3 separate regions of the Homo sapiens genome follow, and regions 1 and 2 are each linked to region 3. The links come from fine-mapping of genetic effects on gene expression. A gene starts in region 3. Each other region holds a variant in brackets. All regions are shown on one strand. Distances are from middle to middle. Region 1 has its middle 100 kb from the start of COCH. Region 2 has its middle 28 kb from the start of COCH. Region 3 holds the start of COCH (cochlin).

Region 1 (5,227 bases), 100 kb after region 3:
AACCACTGATATTGAGAAGCCAAAGTCCAGGAGAGCTTTTCCTGGGATTTTAGAGAGGAAAGGAGGATGACCTCCAGTCTGTGCTGAAGACTTAGATGGAAAGAGGGTTATGCCTCTCAACAGCACAGAAAACAGCAAATTATGTTTGAGAATTCAAGAGATGAGTATTCAGCAGTAGCTCACAAATGGAAGTCACCAGTTCAAAATGCAGTACCATATGTGAATCACTGCTAAATTGAACCCTATTGACATATCAAAGAATACATTGTTGTTTGTTTTCAGAAGGTTGTAGAGATTATCGTAGATTTTGAAGGGATACAGGAACAGTTTTCTCTAGGTGTGAAAGGGCACAGCCACTTAAAAGGTGTCAGAAAAACAATATGTGCAGAAGAGCAGTCCTCGGGGAAATCCCAGAGCCTCAGCAGCAATGTGGGAAGACATAAGGACCAAAACAAAAGTCACAAAACAAGACTCTTCCCTACCCTTTTGTATTTGTTTTGGTCCTTATTTCTTCCAGCACGGCATGTGGAAGGGACAAAGGAAGAGAACATTAATCTTGAACACTAGAGAAGAAAGGGAGAGAGTTGGATGATCTCAGAGCAGTAGAAAACAGCCTTTTAAACATAGAAGGTATGTCTGTTTTAGACTATAGGATGATCTTTTTTTTTTCTTCTTTCTTGTTTCAATCAATGTGATCACAAAGAGTCAACACAGGTTTGATAGAGTGAGAAGAGGTAGTGCAGCCTATTCGTTTGTTTGTTTTTCTGTTATTTCATACTTAAAGGTAAACAAAACCCTCCGTTATATGTGCTACTAAGTCTTTTAAAAATCAAAGGAGACAGTGGGAAGTCAGGTGACATGGAAATAGTCGGATATTGTATCTGCAAAGCCCCTAGCCTCAGCAGGCACATCCTGGGTTCCATTTCTCTGGTGTCCCTTCCCCTGCCCCGCTTCCCTGTTTGAAGTGGCTGGGCACATTGCCTCTACCTGGAAGCTGATAAGACACCCTCACTGCACACTGTCAAGGTTTTCCAAGAAAAATAGCAAAGAATGCACTTGTGTTGAGGTACAGGAGTTGCTGACTGGCAGGTCTCTAAAGAATCAACAAGCCCACGTTTCTGCCTCCTCTCATGTTCCCAAGCTGATTTTCAGCTCAAAACTAATAAAATCGACGTGTTTTTGTAAATCAACAAGTGCAGAGCTTCAGCTCATTTTCTAAATCCTGATGTGCCAATTTAAGAACATTCCCCTCCGCTCAGAAAATTACTCTGAAGAATATTTGTAGGAAAGGCATTGCCCAGAAAGTGGTTGTAACTTTGTGTATGTTTGTTCATACACAAAGTATGAATTAATGATAATTCAGCTAATATTTGTTGGGCACCACTATGAGCTTGGATCTGTGCTTGGCAGTGGGATCAGAGCAGAGAACAAGTCTCTACCCTGGGGATGTTTCAATATTTAAGGAAAGAACTTGGTTAGTTTTGAGGTGGTATTGCATAGAAGAATTGAACATTGAAAACACAGGTTTGAAAACAAATGGTATTAAACACTACATATAACTCCTCAAAGATTTTGCTTTTTGTCCTTTTATTAGGGAGGAGCATTTAATATCAAAATTACTATTCTGAGTGGCCATAATTCAAGAGAAAAAAACTGCAGAGGCTTGTGATTTTAGTAGGAGAATTTTTTGTAGATATCTGTCTCACAAAGAACATCCGTGGGATGCATTCTTATTTGAAGGAAGTTTAACTGTCTCAGAGCTTTTGTGTTTTTATACCAAGGAGCATACATTTGAAGAAGTTTCTATCCTTATATTTCAAGCAGATTTGCATCAAAGCATAAGCTTCATGCACTGTTGAAGACCTTCCCACTAGGTTGTATCCTATTATTTTGCATAATTGTAACCATACTTCGGTGCTGCATTGATTCTCTAACCATTTCCTTTGGGATAATCGGAAACATCTCTGTTGAGATTGAGTCAGGAATGTAGAAGTGGAACTAACCAGGTTCCTGTTGCGTGTACCCGTTTCAAACCACCGTGCTCTTGGAGCTTTCTCCATTTCTTTCTGTGGTATGTCCACTTACAGGAAATAGTCGCCTCAAAACAACCAGCTCTATCTTGCTGAGTTTTACCCGATGGTTTACCTTTTCTCTCATCTTCTCTTTCCTCTTGCCTTCCTGCCTCCCCATACTTCAGGATTTATGTTCCTTTTCTTTGTGACACTTACTTGATGAGTATGACTGTAAAGACATTGTTAACCTCTCCCCTCGCCCCCGCCCTCCCCACTCATCTTTGTATCCTGGATAGGGAGAGGTTTGATTTGAGGGAATTGTGAGTGAGCAGGCAGGAGCTCCTTGGGAGCCAGGCCATGCATCGGCTCCAACAAGCCCCGCCACTCAGGTGCAGCCATCTCCAATCCTGAGCTCATTTTTATGTCCCCAGCAAACATGCATAATCTTAGACAAACAAACAATCCTGCCAAAAAGGGCATCCAACAGTTCCTTAAGACAGAGCAACAATTCTTGGCTCCGGAATCAGTAAAATTATCTATTTTCAAAACAACCCCTTTTAAAAAAAGAAAGCAACAAAGAGGATAGTGTTGTTTATGTAACTTTTTTGTAAGGTTATAAAAAGTTTTTTTTTTTTCTCTCTCTCTCTCTGGGTACAAAATGGGTACGGTATGTGTTCCCAAGCCTAGAGAGGTTGTTTGGGAAAGCAATGATATCTCTTGAGATTTTCCTTTGCTAATGACTTTAGCCTTTCTCCCTTGTAGAAAAAAAAAAG[GT/T]TGTTTTTAACATTCTGCTCTGCAAGTTCTTAGGAATGGTTGTTGGGAACTGGGTACCTTAGATCATTTCTCTTGTCCCTGAGAGCTGTTCTCAGGCCCTGTGAGGTGAACGGTCAGGGGTGATCTAGCATGGCAGCCATGGAGCTCCTTTGTTGGGTGGGAGGAGGTGGTGGGGTCCTTGCAGCAGTGACTCCAGCTCCTGACTGGTGCCTCTGGCCTCTCCGGATGACCACCATGACTTTTTTTTTGACCTGGCTGAATACAATTTCTCCAGTTTTTTTTTCTTGTGACCTTCTGGCCATCAGCTTCCACTTGTTGCCTGTCAGGTGAAATTAGCATTACTGGAGCCCCTCTAGAAAGAGGGCAACATGTAATATGTGTGGGGAGAGTGGAGGGCTTCACACAGCCTTCAAGAAACCTGAAAAATGAAACCGAAAATTTAAAAATCCACAAATAAGGAATTCAAAAACCTTATATGCTCAGAGGCTACTGTAGAGAGAAAAGCAAAGATGAAAGAAAGCAAAGGGCACCCTGCCATCTTAAACAAGGAAAGAAGAATAAATTAATGTGAAGGGACCTTTGTAGAGGGAAGAATGTCCAAACACAGGAATACAAGGCAGACTTGAAGTCCAGGTCACACGGAGTTGATCAGTGAATTCTCACCTAGTATAAGTACCAGTGGCACCATTTGGGGATGTGAAATGTGGGAGACAGTGGGATCTGTCCACCGCACCACCAGGGATTCTGGTGGGGGTCATCCCCAGCATGCTTTTCCCCGGAACTCCTCTTCTTCATGTCTTGTGCCATTGGCTGTGTCATTCAATGGGGACAGAAATAAAAACGAGGCAGTTATTTGAGTTTCAGATCAGCTGTACCCACTAGCTATATTTCATTTGTTTGTTTTGCAGGGAGTAATTTAGGAACTCCAATGTAATTGCTGATTTTACTAGTTGTCACTGAGAAGCATTTCACATCAAATTTCAGCTGCATACCATGCTCCCATTTCCACTTAGGCTTAGATTGGACCTGGTCTTGGGCCCCTTTGGGATCTGAGTGTGTTTCATTTCTCTGTGTTTCTTGGCTTAATGAAAATTGTCAGATACGTCTTATCTTTACTCATTTGCTCAGAGATAACCTTCAGGACACAGTGAAAAATAAGGATATTGGGCCAAAGTTCATCTGTTTGTTCAGAATTTCTGGAAAATATCAAAAACATTACTTCTTTTGACTGTAAAAGTAGAGTTTTAAATTGTATTTATTTAAATTTTAAAGTACTTCTTGCTTTTAAGAGCTGCTGCTTTGATTTTGGAGAAGGATAATTCTCACCCACCAACCATTTATTAATTTAGTACCTACTAAATGCTATAACAGAGCAGAGTGTGGAGAGGGCCTGGTTGATGTGGCCCATAGATTTGGGCAGGCTTCCCTGAAGTGGGCTTTGACAAATGAGTAGGAGCTTCCCTGATGAAGACAGAAGAGGAGGATATTTCAAGCATAGCAGAGCCCCAGAGCCATGCAAATAAAGGGCTTGCGAGGGGCAGCAACAGCTCCTGAGTGAGGCCAGCCAACCAGATGGTGGAGTGAGAGGTAGGCATTGAGGTTAGAAAGACAGATTAGGCAGCTGGGTGTGGTGGCTCACGCCTGTAATCCCAGCACTTTGGGAGGCCGAGGCGGGCGGATCACGAGGTCAGGAGATCTAGACCATCCTGGCTAACATGATGAAACCCCGTCTCTACTAAAAATACAAAAAATTAGCCGGGCGTGGTGGCGGGTGCCTGTAGTCCCAGCTACTCAGGAGGCTGAGGCAGGAGAATGGTGTGAACCTGGGAGGCAGAGCTTGCAGTGAGCCGAGATTGCGCCACTGCACTCCAGCCTGGGCGACAGGGAGACTCCGTCTCAAAAAAAAAAAAAAAAAAAAAAAAAAAAAAAAAAAAAAGAAACACAGATTAGGGTCAGGCTTTGTATGCCAAGAAAAGAATTCAGATTTTGTCCTTCAAGCATTGAACTGTCATCTAAAATTCTTAATCAGGGTCATGATATGGGAGGTATAGTGAACATTTTGCACTTATCTTGGCTGGCCAGCAAAGAATGATGCTGGAGAGATGGTGGAGAACTTGCTTTCTGTGTTAGAGGAGTTCCCCACCTTATGATGCAAGTCGGCCTCTGCTGTAGGTGCTGAAAGTGTGATGTACCCTCTTTCCAGTCTTCCTCGCAGTTCAGGAATGGGCACGTGACCTAGGCTCTGCCAATCAGATGTCTCCACTCCAGACTGAATAGTGACATGAAGAAGCAAGGACCTCAAGCAAGATCCATTTCTGGAGATGGAGCCATCAGTTCTAGAAGCAGCAGAGGGCAAACACCTGAGGGTCAGGGTCAAGTGTCCAGTGGTTCAGGGTGGTGATGGAAGCTTGTGTGTCTCTGCCCAGCAGGATCAATGATGC
Region 2 (5,227 bases), 28 kb after region 3:
TTCTGTCACTGTGTCTGATGACAGACTTTCAGAACATAATGGCTATTGTTTCACTTCTGTCTTCTAAATCTCACACAAGATCCTCTTGGCCAATTAAGCCCACAGCCATAGAAGGGAGAAGATTTTGGGAAACATGATTTCAGTTTGACCGAGTCAACACAGAACAAACCACCACAGATTTCTGCTTCTGTCAGTGTGGCTCTTTAGGACAGTCTCTCAGGCACGTCTGGTCTCATAAGAGGTAGTAAGATCTCCAAGGACCCTCTCCCAGCAAATACAACAACCAGCAGAGCCGTGGGCAATGAAAGTGTGAGATGAGCTTTCCCTGAGAGTAGATGTCAATAGTCATGCTGCTACCAAGATATTGGTGGCCAGGTAAGAAAACTGAGCTTGGAACATCCAATGTGAGCTTCGACTGTGCCAAGGGGCTGATGTCATCCCAGGGTAGTACTGCCTTTTGCTGCTGGTAAAAGAAGAAGCAAAAAACAAATTGTCTCTGGGGGAAATCTTCAACAATTTAGTTTGCAGATTAAGCAATCATTTCACAATCAAAGTTCACCATGCACATTGCAATGCAAGCCAAGCTGAGTGAGATCAATAGAAAAAAAAAAAACAGATTTAGACCCTTCCCCATAGACTTCAGTTATTAGAGTTGTCAGTTGCACAATATAGGGAAGCTATGTTAAAAATATTTAAAGGGGAGGGTGTGGTGGATCATGCCTGTAATCTCTTTTGGAGATGGAGGCAAGAGGATCGCTGGAGGCTGGGAATTTGAGACCACACTAGATAACATATTGAGAGCCCCATCTCTACAAAAAATAAGAAAAAAGTAGCCAGGTATGGTGGGGCACGCCTGTTGCCCTACCTACCTGGGAGGCTGAAGCAAGAGGCTCTCTTGAGCCCAGGAGTTGGAGATTGCAGCGAGCTATGATCTCACCACTGCACTCTAGTCTGGGCAACAGAGTGAGACTCTGTCTCTAAGAAAAAAAAAAACTTAAAGAAATAATGGACACAATCAAAAAGATAAGTAAGTAACAAAAAAACCAGCAGGAATAAATAGGTAGACTTGGAAATAAAAGGGAATTTCTGAAAATGTAAAATACAATTGTTAAAAATTTAAGGACTCAATGAATGGGTTTGACAGCAGATTTAATACAGCCATAATCACTCCAGGAAAGGCAGAAAAGGAATTGGAAAACATAAAAAAGTAGATATGTGAGGAAATCTAATATATATTTAACCGAGTCCCAAAAAGTGAGACTAGAGAGAAAATTGTAGGCAATATTTAAAGAGATATGGGCTTTAAATTTTCCAGAACTAATCTATTCCATAGATCCTAGGAAAAACCTGTTTTGAAAAAAAAGGAGAGCTGTTGTAAAATATGCAGACTATAGTTAATAACAATGCATTATATTCTTGAAAATTGCTAAGTATAGATTTGAAGTGTTCTCATCACAAAGCAATGATATGTATGTGAGGTAATATATATATTAATTAGCTCGATTTAGCTATTCCACAATGTGTACCTATTTCAAAGCATGCTGTACATGATAAATATATACAATTTTTATTTCTCAATTAAAACAAATAAATAAAAATTTAGAAAAAATAAATAGAAAGCCTGAATTGTCCTAAGACTATTTAAAAAAAATCAAACTATCAGTGATGTTTTCCCACTAAGAAAACTCTATGTCTTGGATGTTTTACAGGTAGTTCTACCAAATTTCTAAGGAGCATATTATTCCAAATGTAATAATTCTTTGAGAGGATAGAAAACTCATTCTATGAGGTCACTGCTACCTTGATACCAAATCCAGGCAACGTCAGTATGAAAATGGGTTATTACAGTCACTCTTTCTCATTAACACATACACAGACTGAATCTATCAGTTGATAATGAACACCCAAAGGTCTCTAATACAAAATTTCAATGAAATGGCTAAAGATAAGTAAAAAAAAAAGGGAATAAAATTTACTAGCATTAAAATCAGGAAACACTGCCAGGT[A/G]TATTCTGTGTACTTCTCCCTATATGAAGAGGGCACCTTCCACCATAAGGGGAGGGCAAGTATATAGTTACAATTTTTTGCAGTGTTCTGTTTCTTATATTGTCAAGGATACAGAGTGTTGTTCTTTGTCTTATTTTACTTAAAACTTACATATACATTACATATATTCTTTTGATTATATCAAGAATTATATATACATGTGTATACATGTGTGTACATATTTGGGTATGTGATATATATTTTTCTTCAATGGAAAGGGGATGGCATAAAAACAAGCTTGTAATGGAACAAAATGGCCAAAGAGAAGTAATTAGGACAAAACTGCATTGACACTGAAACTAGGAAATCATGCTAAGCATAAGCCATGCATTTTTGGAAATATCAGCCAGATAAAATGCAATTTGAAAAAGATTAATGAAACCAAAAGTTGGTTTTTTGAAAAGATAAAAGTGACAAACCTTTAGCCAGACTAATTAAGCAAAGAAGAGAGAAGACCCAAATAAATAAACAGATGAAAAAGGAGACATTACAACTGATACCACAGCAATTCGAAAGATCATTACAGGTTATTTTGAGCAACTATGTGCCAAAAATTGAAAAACCTAGAAGAAATTGATAAACTCCTAGGCACATACAGCCTACTAAGATTCAACTATAGAGAAATTCAAAACCTGAGCAGACCAATAACAAGCGATGAGATTAAAGCCGCAATAAAAAATCTCGCCGTAAAGAAAAGTCCAGGACCTGATGAATTCACTGCTGAATTCTACCAAACATGTAAAGAAAAACTAATACCAGTCCTACTCAAACTATTCCAAAAAACAAAGAAGGAGGGAATACTTTCAAACTCATTCTTCAAGGTCAGTGTTACCCAGTACCGAAACCAGACAAAGACACAACAAAAAAAGAAAACTGCAGACCAGTATCTCTTATGAACATTGATGCAAAAATCCTCAACAAAATGCTAGCAAACAGAATTTGACAACACATTAAAAAGATCATTTATCATCAACAAGTGTGATGCATCCCAGGGTGTAAGGATGGTTCGATATAGTCAAATCAATGTGATCCATCATATCAACAAAATGAAGGACAAAAACCACATGATCATTTCAACTGATGCTGAAAAAGCATTTGATAAAATTCAACATCCATTCATGATAAAACCCTTAAAAAAATACTGGGGCTAGAAATATACCTCAATGTAATAAACATCATATATGACAGAGTCACAGCTGGTATCACACTGAATGGGGAAAAACTAAAAGCCTTTCCTCTAAGATCTGTAACATGACAAGGCTGCCCACCTTCACCACTGTTATTCAACGTAGTACTAGAAATCCTAGCTAGAGCAATCAGACCAGAGAACGATATAAAAGGCATCCAAATAGGAAAGGAAGAAGTCAAATTATCTTTGTTTGAAGATGATATGATCTTATATTAGGAAAAACCTAAAGACTCCACCAAAAACTATTAGAACTGATACATTGAGTAAAGTTGCAGGATACAAAATCAACATAAAAAAAACCAGTATCATTTATATGACAACAGAAAACAATCTGAAAAAAATAAAAAAGTAATCTAATTTACAATAGCAACAAATAAAATTACCTGGAAATTAACTTAAAAGAAGTGAAAGATCTTTACAATGAAAGCTATAAAACATTGATGAAAGAAATTGAAGAGAACACTGAAAAAATGGAAATATATTTAATGTTCATGGATTGGAAGAATCAATACTTTAAAAAATGTCCATAGTACACAAGGCAATCTACAGATTCAATGCAATCTCTATCAAAATACCAATGACATTCTTCACAGAGGTAGGAAAATAATTCTAAAATTTATATGGAACCACAAAAGACCCAGCTTAGACCCAAGGTAGCCAAAACTATCCTGAGCAAAAAGAACAAAACTGGAGGAATCCCATTCCCTGACTTCAAGTTATACTACAGTGCTATAGTAACCAAAATAGCATGGTACTAGCATAAAAACAGACACGTAGACCAATGGAACAGAATAGAGAACCCAGAAAGTAAACCATACATCTACAGTGAACTCTTATTGATGAAGATACCAGAAACATACATTGGGGAAAGGACACTCTTCAATAAAGGGTGCTGGGAAAACTGGATATCCATATGCAGGAGAATAAAACTAGACTCCTTTCTCTCACCATATACAAAGATCAAATCAAGATGGATTAAAGCCTTTTCAACTTTAATGGATTTATTTTAATCCATTTTCACTTTAATCTAAGATCTCAAATTATGAAACTACTAAAAGGAAACGTTGACAAAACTCTCCAGGACATTGGACTGGCAAAGATTTCTTGAGTAATACCCCACAAGCACAGGCAAGCAAAGCAAAAATGGACACATGGGATCACACCAAGTTAAAAAGCTTCTGCACAGCAGAGGAAACAATCAGCAAATTGAAAAGATAACCCACAGAATGGGAGAAAATATTTGCAAACTATCCACCTGACAAGGGATTAATAACCAGGACATATAAGGAGCTCACACGACTGTGCAGGAAAAATATCTATTATAATAATCTGATTTAAAAATAAGCAAAAGATGTGAACAGACATTTTTCAAAAGAAGACATACAAATGGCAAACAGGCACATGAAAGTGTGCTCAACATCATTAATCATCAGAGAAATGCAAATCAAAGCTACAATGAGATATCATCTCACCCCAGTTAAAATGGCTTTTTCCAAAAGACTAACGATAACAAATGTTGGCGAGGAGGTGGAGAAAACAGAATCCTCGTGCACTGTTGGTGGGAAAGTAAATTAGTACAACCACTATGGAGAACAGTTTGGAAGTTCCTCAAAAAACCAAAAATAGAGGTACCATATGATCCAGCAATCCCACTGTTAGGTTCTATCTAAAATAAAGGAAATCAGTATATTGAAGAGATCCACACACCCATGTTTATTGCAGCACTATTCACAGTAGCCAAGATTTGGAAGCAATCTAGGTATCCATCAACAGATGAATTAATAAGGAAAATGTGGTACATATACACATGGAGTGCTATTTAGCCATGAAAAAGAATAAGATCTAGTCACTCATAACAACATGGATGGAACTGGAGGTCATTATGTTATGTGAAATGAGCCAGGCATAGAAAGACAAACTTTGCATGTTCTCACTTATTTTGGGAAACTAAAAATCAAATCAATTGAACTCATGAACATAGAGAGTAGAAGGA
Region 3 (5,227 bases):
TCGATACAGAAGCATATACTATGTTCCCATACACAGAGAATTCCTCAAGAGGGCAGCCCCCTGGGCAGAGGACATCTGCTTTCTCTTTCCTGATGTCCAAGCCTCTGGTAAAACATGTGATAGCAATGGGAGCTGAAGAAAAAGGAGATAATATTGTAAGCATTCTTAGGACTTCTTGGGGCATAGTGGTGGGGAGACTACAGTGTGAGATTTAAGTTTTACTTCCCTAATTTCTACACTTCTAGTTATGACTATTGACTTATATACCCTTCCATACCATTCCAGATTTTGGCAAGCCACAAGGTTGTTTTCCAATTTAATATAGTCCCCAGCCACTATAAAACTCTAATGTGAAAGTTCTGGGTTTTTATTTCGTTTTTGTTTTTGAAATGGGGACTCGCCAAGTTGCCCAAGCTAGGCTCAAATTCCCGAGCTCAAGTGATCCACCTCCAACTCCCTAGTAGCTGGGATTACAGGTGTGCCACTGTGCCTGGCTTCTCAGTTCTTAACCAGGTTGGAAATACATAATTGGAACTATATCTGAACTAGAAAATAAAAGTCATTTAATATTAATTATAGAAATATAAAAAATCTTGGCTGGGCGTGGTGACTCATGCCTATAATCCCAGCACTTTAGCAGGCCAAGACAAGAGGATTTGCTTGAGTCCAGGAGGTCAAGACCAGTCTGGACAACATAGCAAGACCTCATCTCTTCTAAAAAAAAAAAATTTTTTTTAAATGGCCACACGTGGTGGTGCATGCCTGTACTCTCCGCCACTGGAGAGGCTGAGGTGGGAGGATTGCTTGAGCCCGGGAGTTCAAGCTTGCAATGAGCTATGATTGCATCACTGCACTCCATCCTGGGTTACAGAATAAGATCTTGTCTCCAGAAGAAAAAAAAAAATTTTTAAATCTCAACTTTGATGACGCTATGTACACAGTTGCTTGAGGTAAAGATAGTAAATCTGGATTGAGCCTTTGTGGAACATTTTCATAGACATGTGCACAAATCAAAGCCATCCTTTCCTTCATAGGACCATTTATCCTAGTTAGCCTACAAATGCAGATCCTTAAACTCACACATTAAGGAAGCCAACAAAAAGATGCTTAGATTCACAGAAAGTTATCTAACTTGATTGTTCATTTTATAGATGAGAAAATTAAAGCCGTGGGGTTAATTTGCCCAAACAACATTCTACAACTCCCGAAGGACAGAAAACAGAAAAGTGAATCCCTTCAGAATACAGCATTTTTATCTTAATTGAACCTGATTATTTCTGCTCCAGATCTGTCCAGTGAGATTTATCAAGCAGCGGATGCATTTTTAGAAAGCACTGTTAATATTCTCAAGTTTTACACTGTCAACCTAACAAAGAATCAGTTTTTACTATAAATGATGCTAGGAAGAGACAAGCTCTTGGCAACAAGTAACAAGATAACATAATACAACATGTTAATTTGTGAATTTACTGTCGATACTAAATTGAGATTAATGTTATTAAATGCTATTTTTCAAACATGGGAAGTTGTAGTTATCCAAACCTTTTTAAAACATATATTAATTTTAAAAACCTTTTTTTTCCAAGGCAGAGGAATACTTTCTGGCCATACTGTCCAACTGAGTACCTTGCCTGTGACAAGCACCCTCCTCTGTGCCCTTTGTGGTGACAGGTACCTTACATTCCATGGAAGAGAAGGAAGGATGCAGGCGCAATGCCCATTTCTTAGCTCTGAAGCAGTCTAGAGAGCTGAGAGGTTAAAATCCTTACCCCTAAACAGCCTCATACCTATCATCAAACAGCCTTAATCCTTCCTCCCATTTTCCGCTGAGATGGGGGCGGCATCGGAATCCGGTGCCAAGACCGACCGCCTTTAGTTGCGAACACTGACTTTTGTTAAGTAGAGCGGGAGAAATACAGCCATGAGGGATACTTAACCCTCATTCCTACTTTCAAGGAAAACAAACGGTAGCTCTTAGGAAAGCGTTGCCTTTTACACTGGAAAATACACCAAACCACACACCCATACCCGGACCTCTACACGTGGTACAAACTTTTTAAACTCTCTAGCGTGTAGAGTGAGACCGCGAGTGCTTCTGATTATAGGGGTTACACCTAGAAACATAGCTAGCGAGTCAAACAAGGTGGGACAGCGACGTTCGCCTCCCTCTCTCTCGGCTACGGCAACCTGAAGTCGGGTCTGGGCGGCTTCTCCTCCACCCCCAAACGCAGCAGAGCCCAGGACTGGTGCGCTCCTCGGTGAGGCTCAAGGAGTCCTCCTTCCTCGACCTCCTGCTGCCGGCGCTCAGCGGGCCCGGGGTCTGGGGCTGTGGGTGGGCCTGGAGGAGGCCTTCTTCCTAGTGCTCTTGGAGAACGTCCCCCCACTGGACCCCAGGGGCCCCCTACCATGGGAGAAACAGGTGAGCAGGAGCAGATCGGCTGCAGGGGTTAACGCGGGCGCGCCACGCGGCGGCTCAACCTTCGCGCCTTCCTCCTCAGGCGGTAGGGCTGAAGCCCAAGGGGCTGGATCTGAGTCCCGCTTGTACCCGCTGGTGCTCAGCCCCTGCGACCGCCTGGACGCACCCCAGCTCCCCCACTCACCGGCTCCCTCGCTGCCCGCGGGCCCCGGCAGCAGCAGCAGACACACACCTGCGAAGAGAGAAGCGTGAGGGCTGGCTCCAGCCTCCACCCAGCGGAGCAAGGGGCCGGGGTCGTGAGGGGCGCGCACCCACCGAGGCCGAGAGCCGGGATCCAGGCTGCGGACATGGTGACTGATAGGCTGCTCACACCTGGGAGAGAGGGAGAATGCGGGCAAGGCCAGGGTGCGGGAGGCCCCGCGCGTCACCTCCTCAGAGCCCCGCACCCTTCGGATCCCCGGGCGCGGCGCAGAGGAGAGAGGACACAGACGACCCGCTGCTCCAGGCCAGCGCCCCTCTAGGTCTGGGAGGCGCCTCGGCGGCAAATCGAGCGAAGCCCAGGATCGGTGTGCAACCCCGCACCGCGGGGAGGCGGGGGCGCCAAAACGACGACAGACAGGCTGGGAGCGACAAAGAAACAGGGACAGAGGCGTCAGGGATCCCTCGCACCCGCGCCCGCCGCCCGGGGCTCCGCACCTGCTCGAGATCCACCCGGCTGCGCCCGAGTGCGGAAGGCAAGGCCCCCGCGGCCGCTATAAAGGCTGGGCCGTGCGCATGAGCACTGTGCGGGGGGCGCGGGAGGAAGCGCGGGAGCCGGTCCCCCGGGGCCCGGCGGCGACTTCCAGCTCCGCCTTCGCCCCCTGCCGGCCCCGGGGTGAGGCCGGCGCGGAGGCGCCTCCTCCAGCAGCGCAGGCTCGGCCACCTGGACGCGGCGCCAGTCCCTAGAGGGGCACGAAGGTCCCCGTGCCGGCGTCTCAACGAGTGTGGAGGGCCGGCGGCCCCGACGGCGGCAGCAGCGGCCTCGCCAGCCCTGCTCTGCCGGGACCAGGGCTGCTGAGGCAGCGGCGGCCGCTACCCGCCCCACCCAGCGAGGCCTGGAGCTTCTGAGAGCTGTCAGGTCCACGCGGCCTGAGAACCGAACTTCTCAACTTGGTGCTCTCGTGGAAAGAGTTCCTACTTCTGAAATAAAACCACCCTAGGTTTGGTAAACGCATGCCGCGTTTTTGTTAGAAACCCTGTCAACTGACTGCTAGCTCGTTGGACCTTAGGGATTCGGCCTTGCGCCTTCGTTTCTGCTGGAGTCCTACTTTCCCCAGTGGTTCAATTTGTGCTCCTGCCTAGAGCCACGCGTGTGAGACAGCCCTGACCCCAGCAGCCGGTACCTTTGCTTCTTTCTCACCTCAGGAAGAATTTATGCCTGATTGCCTTTCGAAATTCCCAGACTTGGTGTCTTGTGACTGCACAGAATCTCAGATTTGATAATGTGTTCTCCTTCTCCCCGCACCATCCTGCTAACGTTTTACAAATGGAAATGGAGAAGGAGCAGAATTCTTGAGGAGTGTTAGTGACAGGCGACCTGCATGGCAGCGGAAGAACCAGACCCAGGCCCAGACGCTAACCTTTCTGGTACAATATAAACTTTTTCAAATAGCCTTATTTAGTTACAATTTACATGCCATAAAATCCATCCGTTTTGAGTGTACAGTTCAATGATGTTTAGTAAATTTTCAGAGCTGTACAACCATCACCACAAGCCAATTTCAGAACAGGTTCATCCTCCCCAAAATGATCTCCTCGCCATTGTCAGTCAGTCTCTTCTCCCACTCCTAGTCCTAGGCAATCACTAACCTATTTCCTGTCTCTATAGATTTTTCTTAGTGGTCGTTTCTTATAGATGGGATTATACATTGTGCGGCTTCCTTCACTGCACAGAATGTTTTTGAGGTTCATCCATGAGGCATTATAGAACAGTACTTCCTTTCTTTTTATTGTTGAAAAGTATTCCCATGCCATTTTATACTGAGAAACAAATACACCACCATCACCTGGAAGTCAACTAGTGTAGTAGTCTTAATTACAACTATCTTCCTGATTGGAATGACTTAGTATTTGTATCAGGCAACTAAGGAGTGTTGATTTCATTCCCTTTACTACCTGAATGTCTTCTGGAGGGAAAGAGACCAAATAACATTTGAGGGCTGGGAGGTTTTTGATGTTTATTTTCATGGCTGCTTTCAAGATTTACTCCCTTCCCTGGTATAGAGAATTACCCTTTTCTTAGAAATCCAGTAATCTAGCCACTGCCCCTGATATTTTCCATGGGAGAAATTTCAAGCCTCAGGACAATTAAAGCTGTCTTTTCCATTATTGTTTATTGAGTGTCCTCAATCAGGGTTGGATAACCTCCCCTAATTAGGCTGGACAAATTGTCATGATGCTATATAATTAGGAAGAGTCTGTACGCTGGAAAAAACCTGCCACTTCACAGCTCAGCAGGCAGGTCCCAAATGGCCAAAGGGGTAGATGCTATTCAGAGCCCCCACAGGGCACTGGCAGCCCTCCTGTGATGTAATTTCAGTGAGTGATTTGGCAGAGTCAAAACTATGCAGCTATTTCCATGACAGACCCTGAGTCTGTAACCATTAAAAAATAAAGGAAATACCTCACTGAATTTCATGGTTGTTTACTGAGATTCATCTTAATTATTTTGTTTTGAAACATTTAAGAGAAGTTACTCTGTCTTTACTATTTTTTTCTTTTTGGTAAGGCCAACCAAGGAGAGTGGAAGAGTGGGGTTTAGACTCTCATTCT

The links. PIP is the estimated chance that this variant, and not a neighbour inherited with it, causes the effect.
Region 1: its variant is fine-mapped to the expression of COCH in thyroid (GTEx, PIP above 0.99). The same link has a PIP of 0.9 or more in adrenal gland.
Region 2: its variant is fine-mapped to the expression of COCH in whole blood (TOPMed, PIP above 0.99).

What each region holds. Positions count from the first base shown.
Region 1 is chr14:30,767,641-30,772,867 of GRCh38, reverse strand. No RefSeq gene overlaps it. Among named protein-coding and RNA genes, the nearest start is that of COCH, 100 kb to the left of the region's middle. The variant GT/T (reference allele first, on the strand shown) is at 2,786.
Region 2 is chr14:30,844,329-30,849,555 of GRCh38, reverse strand. No RefSeq gene overlaps it. Among named protein-coding and RNA genes, the nearest start is that of COCH, 28 kb to the left of the region's middle. The variant A/G (reference allele first, on the strand shown) is at 2,007.
Region 3 is chr14:30,872,477-30,877,703 of GRCh38, reverse strand. COCH (cochlin) reads right to left here and starts at 3,145. Exons shown (of 12, transcript NM_004086.3): 1 at 3,113-3,145; 2 at 2,732-2,788; 3 at 2,601-2,648; 4 at 1-132. The coding sequence starts at 2,765. COCH-AS1 (COCH antisense RNA 1) reads left to right here. Exons shown (of 5, transcript NR_038356.1): 5 at 1,152-1,525. RefSeq lists a silencer at 3,064-3,583.